2 separate regions of the Homo sapiens genome follow, and region 1 is linked to region 2. Evidence: fine-mapped expression QTL. A gene starts in region 2. The other region holds a variant in brackets. All regions are shown on one strand. Distances are between the middles of the regions.

What was found. PIP is the estimated chance that this variant, and not a neighbour inherited with it, causes the effect.
Region 1: its variant is the best candidate, but not a certain one, in a credible set for the expression of SLC71A1 in whole blood (TOPMed, PIP 0.66).

Annotation. Positions count from the first base shown.
Region 1 is chr1:99,897,239-99,902,585 of GRCh38, reverse strand. It overlaps AGL (amylo-alpha-1,6-glucosidase and 4-alpha-glucanotransferase), which reads right to left. Exons shown (of 34, transcript NM_000642.3): 26 at 1,725-1,950. Among named protein-coding and RNA genes, the nearest start is that of AGL, 50 kb to the right of the region's middle. The variant T/C (reference allele first, on the strand shown) is at 2,001.
Region 2 is chr1:100,035,604-100,040,987 of GRCh38, reverse strand. SLC71A1 (solute carrier family 71 member 1) reads right to left here and starts at 2,893. Exons shown (of 12, transcript NM_033055.3): 1 at 2,672-2,893. The coding sequence starts at 2,755. It overlaps LOC124904230 (a long non-coding RNA gene), which reads left to right and starts at 2,980. Exons shown (of 7, transcript XR_007066251.1): 1 at 2,980-3,258. SLC35A3 (solute carrier family 35 member A3) reads right to left here. Exons shown (of 8, transcript NM_012243.3): 8 at 5,354-5,384. RefSeq lists silencers at 2,267-2,456, 2,917-3,096 and enhancers at 2,577-2,856, 2,819-3,421.

The sequences.
Region 1 (5,347 bases), 140 kb after region 2:
TCCTTTGAAGTGAGAAATAGGAATTGGGGTGAGGCCAGGGAAGAAGCAGCTCCTATATACCAAATAATACAGACGAGCATACAAATATTTAACATCAGTAGTTTTGACTATTCATGTCTGTGACATAAAATAATCTGCTGATACACAAAAACAAATCTAGTGAGCTTCTACAGTTTCTATCAGAGTGATCTCTTCAGCTAATAAACGAACCTAGCTTGTTATCCAGCATCTGAATTTTAAATTGGCATTGCTATTTTTACTCATCTGCATACACAGGTAATGGGGGTAAATTATGAGCTAAAGGGAAACTCTCAAATTTGAGGATCCATAATGACTTTGGAAAATACCCCAGTGAATGTAAAGAATTCATAAGTCATTTTCTTTACCCATATAAATAATAAATGTGATACTCAGGATGACATTTGGGAAAATATACAATTATATTTTTAAAAATAAGGTAAAGAATGTTAAATAGAAGCAAAATGTTTAGAGTCCTTACATGTTTATTATGTTTCATTTTAAAGACTCTGAATATAACCAAAACTCTATAATATAAAAATTCTACTATTAATTATAAAAATTATAATGCTGTGAATATTTTTGGATAAACTGTGAGAAAACAAAGTTATGTGTAAAATAATTACCTGCCTGATAGCATGAACCTATATTCATTGTAACAGAAATGTCAGTTGATAACAGAGGACAAATAAAAAAATTTTGGACAAATGTTGAGTACTTCATGATATAAATAAATATCATGAGAACACAAATATATGCTAACCCTGGAGTAGCTTACAAAGCTACTATCCCCTCCCAGCCCCCCCAATCATATATAACAAACTATTAACATAAAGGCAGATCAGAAGTGGCAAAAGTATAGTATTATTGTCCATTCTTGATTAGGGAAAAAAAAACACTCAAAAATGTCTATCCATTCTTCACTGTTCATAAGATAATCTTTAAGCTCCCTGGATTGGTAGTCAAGGCTCTCCATAACCTGGCTCACCCTTTCCATAATCTCTTACTACCCTGCAGGTATCCTACACAAAAAGCCAAACCATATTGACTTTTTCACAAAACGTATTTTATAAGAGCCTAGGCTCTTACAAAAACACTATTAAGTACTATGTCCCCTAAACTGTGCTTCAATCCACTATGCAACCCTATTATTCCTTTCCTCTTTTTTTTTTTTTTTTTTTTTTTAAAGAGACTGAGTTTTGCTATGTTGCCTAGGCTGGACTCATACTCCTGGCCTCAAGTGATCCTTCTGCCTCAGCCTCCTGAGAAGCTGAGATTACAGGTGTGTGCCATACACCTGGCTTCTTTTCAACTCTAATGTCTCCCAACAACTTTCTCCATCTCTCCGAAAGTCCTACTCACCTTTTATGGCTCATTTAGGTGAAACTTTAGCTACTTTCTAACGTTCTCCCTGAGACCTACCTACTGGACCTTCTCTCTCTTTTAAGAGACTACACAACACTTCCTCTACAATCTATTGCAATGGCCATATTTATGTACACATCATCATCTCTTCTACCATGTTGCAAAGTTCTTCAGGCAAAGACCAATCACTTATAGTACCAGCAGGTGCCAAATCAATACTGACATTTGAATAATTCGTAAGATTTGGATTCTTAATTACCCTTATTTTTACATTAGAAACTAAAAGTCATTTTTCAGAAAAAAAAAAAAAAACAAAAAAACATTTTAAGAAATATCTTTACCAGTGTGCCAGCAGGCAAAGGAGCAGAATCATCTGTAGGATACATTCTGGAAACTGGGCACTTGAGAATGTCTAGACCATTTGGAACCATTTTACAGTAATCCTGGATACACTGCAGCCACCACCACACAGCATCCCGACAATTGTATCTGGCATAAATTCCTTCACCCAGTAGATTAGGAATGAGACCATGCCTCAGGGTACCCGCAAATGCTAAAATAATATTCCTAAAACAACAGAATTAAGTGGATCAGAAATGAAAACAAACACTTAAAAA[T/C]TGAAGACAAAAACCAGTCACTTTTGGTGACTATATTTTGAATGCGTTTTCTCTCTTGCCCTATTTCTTTATATTTTCATGTAGAAAGTAGTCATAGTATGATAGAGTAAGTACTGAATTAAAGTCAGGAACCTTGATTCTAGACTAGAATTTTATGCTAACAATCTGTGTGACTCCCTCTCTGATACAGTTTTTTCATTTGAGATTGGACTGGGTGATTTTTAAGGTCCCTCATAGCTCCAGATTCTACTTTTGAAGTCTATGGTATTTCAAAATCGAAGTAACTATTAAACAAGAACTTAATTATTTTAAATAGCAGAAACCAAGAGTAAAACAAACATATAGGAAAACAAACTGGCTGGGCATAGTGGCTCACACCTGTAATCTCAGCATTTTGGGAGGCCGAGGCGGGCGGAACACCTGAGGTCAGGAGTTTGAGACCAGCCTGGTCAACATGGTGAAACGCTGTCTCTACTAAAAATACAAAAATAAGCCAGGAATGGTGGTGCGTGCCTGTAGTCCCAGCTACTCAGAAGGCTTAGGCAAGAGAATTGCCTGAACCCAGGAGGCAGAGGTTGCAGTGAGCTGAGATTGTGCCAGTGTACTCCAGTCTGGGCAACAGAGCAAGACTCTATCAAAAAAAAAAAGAAGAAAGAAAAGAAAGAAGGCCGGGCGTGGTGGCTCAGGCCTGTAATCCTAGCACTTTGGGAGGCTGAGGCGGGTAGATCACGAGGTCAGGAGATCGAGACCATCCTGACTAACACGGTGAAACCCCGTCTCTACTAAAAACACAAAAAATTAGCCGGGCGTAGTGGCAGGCACCTGTAATCCCAGCTACTCAGGAGGCTGAGGCAGGAGAACGGCGTGAACCAGGGAGGCGGAGCTTGCAGTGAGCGGAGATTGCGCCACGGCACTCCAGCCTGGATGGCAGAGCGAGACTCAGTCTCAAAAAAAAGAAAGAAAAGAAAGAAAGAAGGAAAGAAAGAAAGGAAGGAAGGAAGGAGAGAGGGAGGGAGGGAGGGAGGGAAAGAGAGAGAGAGAGAAAGAGAGAGAGAAAGAGAGAGAGAGAGAGAGAAAGAAAACAAACTGGTAGAAGCTGACCTTGAAAAACATAATTCAACCAGTTTAAAAACTGGTTGAAGACAGTTAATTTTTTAAAGCATTATTTTACTATTATATACCAAATGAAAATTTTGTTTGTAAGACAGAAAGGCACTCTAGAAACAGCATGAAATTAAGAAATAAGAAGGCTGAAGTCTAAATCCTAGCTTTGCCATCTGTGTGGCCTTGGAAATGTTATTTAAAATGTCTAGGTCTTACTGCTTTTTGGCTAAACCACTCAGAAATTTTTATTAATTCTATGTCTAAGCTTAATGCCCATCTTTTCAACAGTAATGCAATGGGAAACTTTTTATTTACAAAGTATAAAAATATTAGTATAGACAGTGACACTTTCAATTAAGAAAAGGTCAGAATACTAGCTCTCTCTATATATACATATATATTTGTTTTTTTAAGAGACCCTGTTGCCCAGGCTGGTCTTGAACTTGTGGACTCAAGCAATCTGCCCGCCTCAGGCTCCCAAAGTGCTGATTACAGTTGTGAGCCACCATGCCTGGCCATAGTGCTAGCAATCTTAACCATCTGGAACAATCTTGTACATTTTAATAAAACGACTTCTGATTCATGATTACCTCTATAGAGGGAGGAAGTAGAACCATCTGTGGTAGAGGTATATGTCCACTAAAACGAATTTCCTACAATTCACAACCAATCTTACAGTTGGTTGTGGCCAGAACTGATGCATGTTAAGTGTATGGAGAATAGGTGTGTTCCCCCAGCTCTCTTTCCCTCTCTGCTTGCCTCCTGGAGAGGCCCCAGAAGCCATGGAAACTGACAGATCCTCAAGCTGGAAGAAACCTGCTTCCCTGAATCAGTATATAGAAGGCTGCTTACTGAGCATGCGTCTACGACTACAAGCAAGAAATAAATTTTATTTGTGAAAAGCCATTAAGATTTTAAGTGTTTATAATTTATGGCAGCTAGCACTACCCTAACAAATACCCTCTGGGATAATATATTATTCTCTGGGAATCACCTCTAGATCGGGGTAGGCAAACCTTTTCTATAAAGGGCCATATACTAAGTATTTTAGGCTTTGTGGGACATATATGAATTCTGTTGCACATGCTTTCTTCTTTTAAATGACCCTTTAAAAAGAAAAAGGTAAAAGCTATTCTGGTAGGGCGCAGTGGCTCACGCCTGTAATCCCAGCACTTTGGGAGGATGAGGCAGGCGGATCATAAGGTCAGGATATCGAGACCATCCTGGCTAACATGGTGAAACCCGGTCTCTACTAAAAATACAAAAAATTAGCCGGGTGTGGTGGCGGGCGCCTGTAGTCCCAGCTACTCAGGAGGCTGAGGCAGAAGAATGGCATGAACCCGGGAGGCGGAGCTTGCAGTGAGCGGAGATTGCGCCACTGCACTCCAGCCTGAGTGACAGAGCAAGACTCCGTCTCAAAAAAAAAAAAAAAGGTAAAAGCTATTCTTTGCTCATAGGCCATACAAAACAGGTGATAGGCCACAGTTTGCTAACCAATAATCTAGACAGTTCTATGTAAAATTAAGCAGCACAAATTTGTGATATTGCATAGAGGTGATAATTGGGAGCCTAAACATTAATAATGATAAAAACTAACATTTATGAACTGTTTAGCATGTGGCAGATATTACTCTAGGCATGTGGCAGATATTACTCTAGGCACCTTAACTGTATGTGTTCATTTGATCCTCCCAAGTACCCAGTAAGGTAATTTGTCAGTTGGTAGTTTGGAACCAGGATTAGAAGCTGGCAGTCTGGTGTAAAGCCGAAGTTCTTAACCACTATACTATGCTGAATGCTGATGTTCCATTTCCTTCTTCTAAATCAGTAATTCAGGAGCATTTAGGGAAGAAGCAAACAGCTTCCTAAATTTCTATAGCTCCATAATGGTAATACAAAAAGGTCTTACTATATATCGGATTAACAAAAATGCAATTCATTTCAGATGCCCACCTAAAAACTTCAGTTTTAAAAGTATCAAAAATAAAATTTTGGCATGTAAAGATGCAAACTTCAGTTATTTTCCTGATGGCATCAAAACAAGGTATCGTATAAATGCCCTTTTGCTGAAAGTTTTATCTTTTAGAGCAGTGCTTTCAAACTTCAGCCTTAGACTGTTGATAATCATCCAGAGACCTTGTGAAAACACAGATTTCTGCCCACCAACCCTACTCTCTCTATGTCCAGGTTTGGATTTGGGAGGTTTGGCATAGGGTCCAAGAATCTGCATTTCTAACAAGCTC
Region 2 (5,384 bases):
TACCATTGACCAGGTATGTGAAATACTGTTCACGACTGTCATGTACCGACCATAGAGCCTCAGACATCTCACTGAATGAATCTACCCATTGGCGGAACTTTATAAAAACTCTGAAACTCTGAGGTCAACAGCAATAGCACTGAAATATTCTATGATACGATGAATTAAAAAACACACAACAACAGAGTATCAAATGGCAATTTTTTCCCCTTTCTTAAAAAATGTTCAGTCTGGGCACGGTGGCTCACACCTGTAATCCCTGCACTTTGGGAGGCCAAGGTGGGTGAATCATGAGGTCAGGAGTTCAAGACCAGCCTGACCAATATGGTGAAACTTTGTCTCTACTGAAAATATAAAAAATTAGCCAGGCATGGTGGCACGTGCCTGTAGTCCCAGCTACTCGGGAGGCTGAGGCAGGAGAATCACTTGAACCCAGGAGGCGGTGGTTACAGTGAGCCGAGATCCTGCCACTGCACTCCTCCAGCCTGGGCAACAGAGTGAGACTCCATCTCAAACAAACAAACAAAAAAAGTTCATAATAGTAGTCTGAACTATTGTAAGTAGAGAGGTAGATAAGCAACTACCATTTTACAATCATTTCTATGACTGCAATAGTTATACTTTTTAAATTTAAAGCTGGGATGGATTAAAATACAAATAATGCAAAATATTCCCCTGATATTTATTGAAATATATCCTCTGATTACGTATAAGAATAAACAAAATTACAATAAAAATTCATCTAGGAATGTGCTAGTACAAAATAGAAGTGTTTTTATCACTTTAAAATTCACATACTAGGCCCTGTGGGATCCAAACATACAAAACAAAGCCCCTTTTCTAAAGGAGTGCCCAGTGCTCTTAGAATAGAGAATGAAATATTAAGTGTATAAAGATGAGAAATGATAATAGCCCCCATGTTCACAGCCCTCAAGAAAAGTCTTCATTTGTTCTATGTGAAACCTATTGCTGGTGCAAACATTTTATTTTGTGTCCCAAAGCAGGCTAAGAATTAATTACAACCTTAATAATAGGACAAGAAAGTTTAAAAACGATCTTTTCCAAAACTCACAGGATTTGGAAAGAAAGCATCTGCTGTAAAGCAAATCAAACAAAACCCCAAAGAAAGGTAATAAAACTGAACTTTCCAAGGAAAAGGAAGCTGTGTTTCTTAATCAGTTTCATTCTTACATTTTGTAAAAAATACTGATCTTAAATATCACTTGGTCTTACAAAATACAATCTTTCATTGCCACTATTTTGTAGATTTTATGAAGAATGTAAAATATTGTCTCTTTCTAAAGGTAGACAAAGGCAACAGTATTTTTCTCCCCACATAGTTCTTACCTACTTGGTCAAAAGAGCTATGACTCTTCATAACCGATCTAATCAAAGTAATGTTTTAATTAATCAAGTTCAATAAAAAGAACTTGAGGAATTTGTTTCTTTTTTTCAATAAATGTCAAAGCTATAACATATAATAAACGTTAAACTAAAAATATATTCCAAAGTCATTACATATGTCTCAAGTTTTCTAAACTTTGGCATATTGACTGGGCCGTGTTCTGAAATGTCATAAAATTTTGTCACGTTTTTCAACTGAATTCAGCAAATCCTCAATGGTGGCCTACTTACACATTTACTACTGTGCTAGCAGTTGATCGCGGCTCCAATAAGATATAAACAGAAATGGAATTAATGGTACAATTTCTGCACACTTCAGGTAAGTGAAACATATATATCACCTTTCCATTCTATTTCAGAACGCGGTATCAGCGGATGCAACAAAGACCACACAGTGTAGCAACGGAGAAATGTTAGCATAAAACAGTTTTGTTTTGTTTTGTTTTTCAATTAAAAATCCTACGTCCCCAGCTGGTTAACTACACACTGCATAAAGTTTACTGTGATGACAACTGTTTCTAAAAAGCAAACCTTTCTTCCCTTCAAAGTGTCCTCCTCCGATCCTTAGGCCATGACTGATTCTAATACTTTTGATCTTAAGACACACAGTGATGACTTTTCTTTGAAAACTAGCAGGTTCGAATGTAGGCCCCAGGTGTCTGCCGTCATGCTTCCGACTCCGGGAAGTGAGGGAAGCCCATCTCCGGTCAGGGTTTACTGTAAGCAGCCCAGAGCCGGAGCACCGACGCAGAGAGACGTGGAAACAGAAAGCGAACGTACTACGGGGCCGCAGCGGGATCCCCGCGCCAGACGCCACCCCGTTAGCAACATATGGGAGAGCAGGGATGGTTCCCAGCCCCTTGACAAGCGCGGCGACGGCTCCGCGGGGCCTGGCGGCGAAGGCGAGGCGAGGCTGCGGCGACGAGGGGCGCGGCGGGCGGGCCGCCGGGGGAGCCCCGCACATTCCTCCCCGCGGCGGAGGCGCACGTGGGGTTCGAGGCCGCAGGGCCTGCAGAGGCGGCCAGAGCAGAGGGCGGCAGGTGCGGGAAAGAAAGAGGACGGGCCCCGGAGGCCGCAAGCCCGAGCAGCGGAGGACGATTCCCGGAGCGGCGGCATGCGGGTCCGCGACCCCGAGGCACCGGCAGCTCGGACAGGGTGGGGGAAGGGAGGGAGGCACCGGGACGCCTAGAGACGGCAGTGTGGGGGTCTGAAGGAGAGACCGGATGGGGGCCCCGAGGGACGCTCGCCGGCGCGGAACTCAGCTCACCGTGCCTCCGTCCTTAATGATGATCTTCTTGGCCAGCATGATACTGCGGTTCGCGGCCCGTTTCTTCTTCTTCCCCTGGGTCATTTTACCATCCTCGATTCCTGGCGCTGCTGCAGCCACTCCCGGGGCGGCAGGCCCCAGCAGCTAGTGCCGTCCCACCACTACTGCCGGGCCGAGCCGCTCTGGGCGCCCGCCGCCATCTTGAGGGCCCGGCCTGCCTCCGGCGGCGCGTCACAATCGTGCGATCAGCCGACGAGCGGGCCCCGCCCCTCCCGCGTGATACCGCCCCGCCCGCTCGCCGCCAGCCCACTCTACAGTAGCCGCGCGGCCAGGGTAACCGCGGGCTCGCGTGGGTGCTGCTGGCTACCTGTACAACTTCGTGCTCCGGCGTCACCAGCTAGCTAAATCCTCGCAACGGTTCTGGGCGATAGGGGCCGTTTTTGTCCCCCTTCTTCAGCAGATGAGGGAATTTGTTTCAAAAAGTTGTTACCTGCTCACGGAAACAGACGTCCTAAGCTATTAACACAATCTCCAGCTGTGTTCTAACCAAGACAGGAACCGAAGGGAACAGTAAAAAATCATTTTCCGTAAGTAATGGGTAACTTAAGAGATAATGTAGTGTTTCAGAAACAGTCTTGTCCTTTTGGTGTTCAGGGACCCCCGCTAGAACTCAGCTGGCTCACGCTTGTTTACCTCCCTAGACCCAGGACCTTTTTTATTCCCTGCCAAAAAAAATACCTTACCTGACCGATGTCACCCTTTGTGGCCCTCTACGTTTTTACTGTATTGTTTAAAAATAAATTTGATGGGAACATTGCTAGAAAGGGCAATTTACACAAGTGGAAGTGGACTTTAAAGTATCACAATGTTAAAATTAGATATTGATAACTACCGTGTTGTATAATAGAATATCCTTTTCCTTAAGAGAAAAACACGAGGGATAGGGATACACCGCATGCTCCCTACTCTCAGATGGTTAGGGAGTAACATGTATGTGTATGTATATGTAGGTGGGGAAAAGAGAGGGACAAAGCAAAATGGCGAATGTTTAAAAGTACTGAAACTAGGTATGGTAGTTCTAAGATATGTTCACAGATTCAATGATATTCCTCCCTGGAAGAGGTGGACTCTAATTCCCCTCCCCTTGAGTGTAGACTAGGCTTAGTGACTCTTGATAGATCAAAACAGAAGTGACAGTATTGACTTCAGAGGCTAGGTCATAAAAGGCACTGCATCTTCCTTTGCGGGTCTCTTTTTCATTCATTTTGGGGCTTGGAGCCTGGGGAAGCCTGCTTCCGTGTTTTCAGGACACTCAAGCAGCCTATGGAGAGATCCAGTTGTCCAGGAACTGTTTGTAGCCTCCTACCAAATGCCACGGAGTGAGTCACTTTGGAAGTAGATCCTCCAACCTTGGTCAAGCCTTTGGCTGACTACAACTTCATGAGAGACCCAGAGGTAGGACCACCTAGCTTAGCCACTCCTGGAATCCTGACTCAGAAACAGTGTAAGATGAAAAGTACTTGGTGTAAGCCACTAAGCTTTGGGGTTATTTGTTACACAGCTATAAATAACTAATATATAGGGTAAAAGGAAAAACAGTAAATGAATGTATGAGTTCTTTGTACTGTTTTTGCAACTTTTCTGTAAGTTTGAAATTATTTCCAAATAAAATGTTAAAAAGTAAATTTGATTGAATTTCCTTTTCCTTGTATTTTCATACTGACTAAAAATGGAAAAAAAAACTAATTTCCATGGAAGGGAGAAGAAAAGCAATTTATAGCCTGATAGATACTTCTAATTATATTTTCCAATCAATAAGTATATTCATTATACTTGTTTTGAAACATATATTCTCATTTTGAAACTTTTTTTATTATTTATTTTTTGAGACAGAGTTTTGCTCTTGTTGCCCAGGCTGCAGTGCAATAGTGCCAACTTGGCTCACTGCAACTTCCAGCTCCCAGGTTCAAGTGATTCTCCTGCCTCAGCCTCCCGAGTAGCTGGGATTACAGGTCCCCACTACCATGCCTGGCTAATTTTTTTTGTATTTTTAGTAGAGATGGAATTTCACCGTGTTGGCCAGGCTTGAACTCCTTACCTGAGGTGATGTTCCCGCCCCAGCCTCCCAAAGTGCTGGGATTACAGGTGTGAGCCACCATGCGTGGCCTATTATTATTTTCTGAGGCAGGGTCTCACTCTGTCACCCAGGCTGGAGTGCAGTGGTGCCATCATGGCCTCCTGCAGCCTCTTCCGAAACGATCCTTCTGCCTCAGCGTCTCAAGTATCTGGGACTACAAATGCACACCACCATGCCTGGCTAATTTTAATTTTTCTTTTGTAAAGACAGAGTCTGGTTATGTTGACCAGGCTGGTTTCAAACCTGGCCTCAAGAGATACTCAGTTCTACCAAAGTGCTGGGATTACAGGTTTGAGCCACCGCGCCTCGCCTGCAACTTTTTAGTTGACACCCAACTTGAAGTTCTTTAGAGAAAGTAATATGATAGATTTCATAATTCAATTCCCAGGAGCTTGTTTTGAATGGAAGTAGAGGGCTGATAATTTATTGTGTGGTTACTTTGATTTTCATAGTCCCTCAAAATCATACTTCATCTAGCTATACCAATTTTATCAGCCTTATGAACTGGTTATTGTTCAGTCATTCAAAAAATATTTACTGGGTGCTTGTGTTGTCAGTGTTTTATTAGATGCCAGG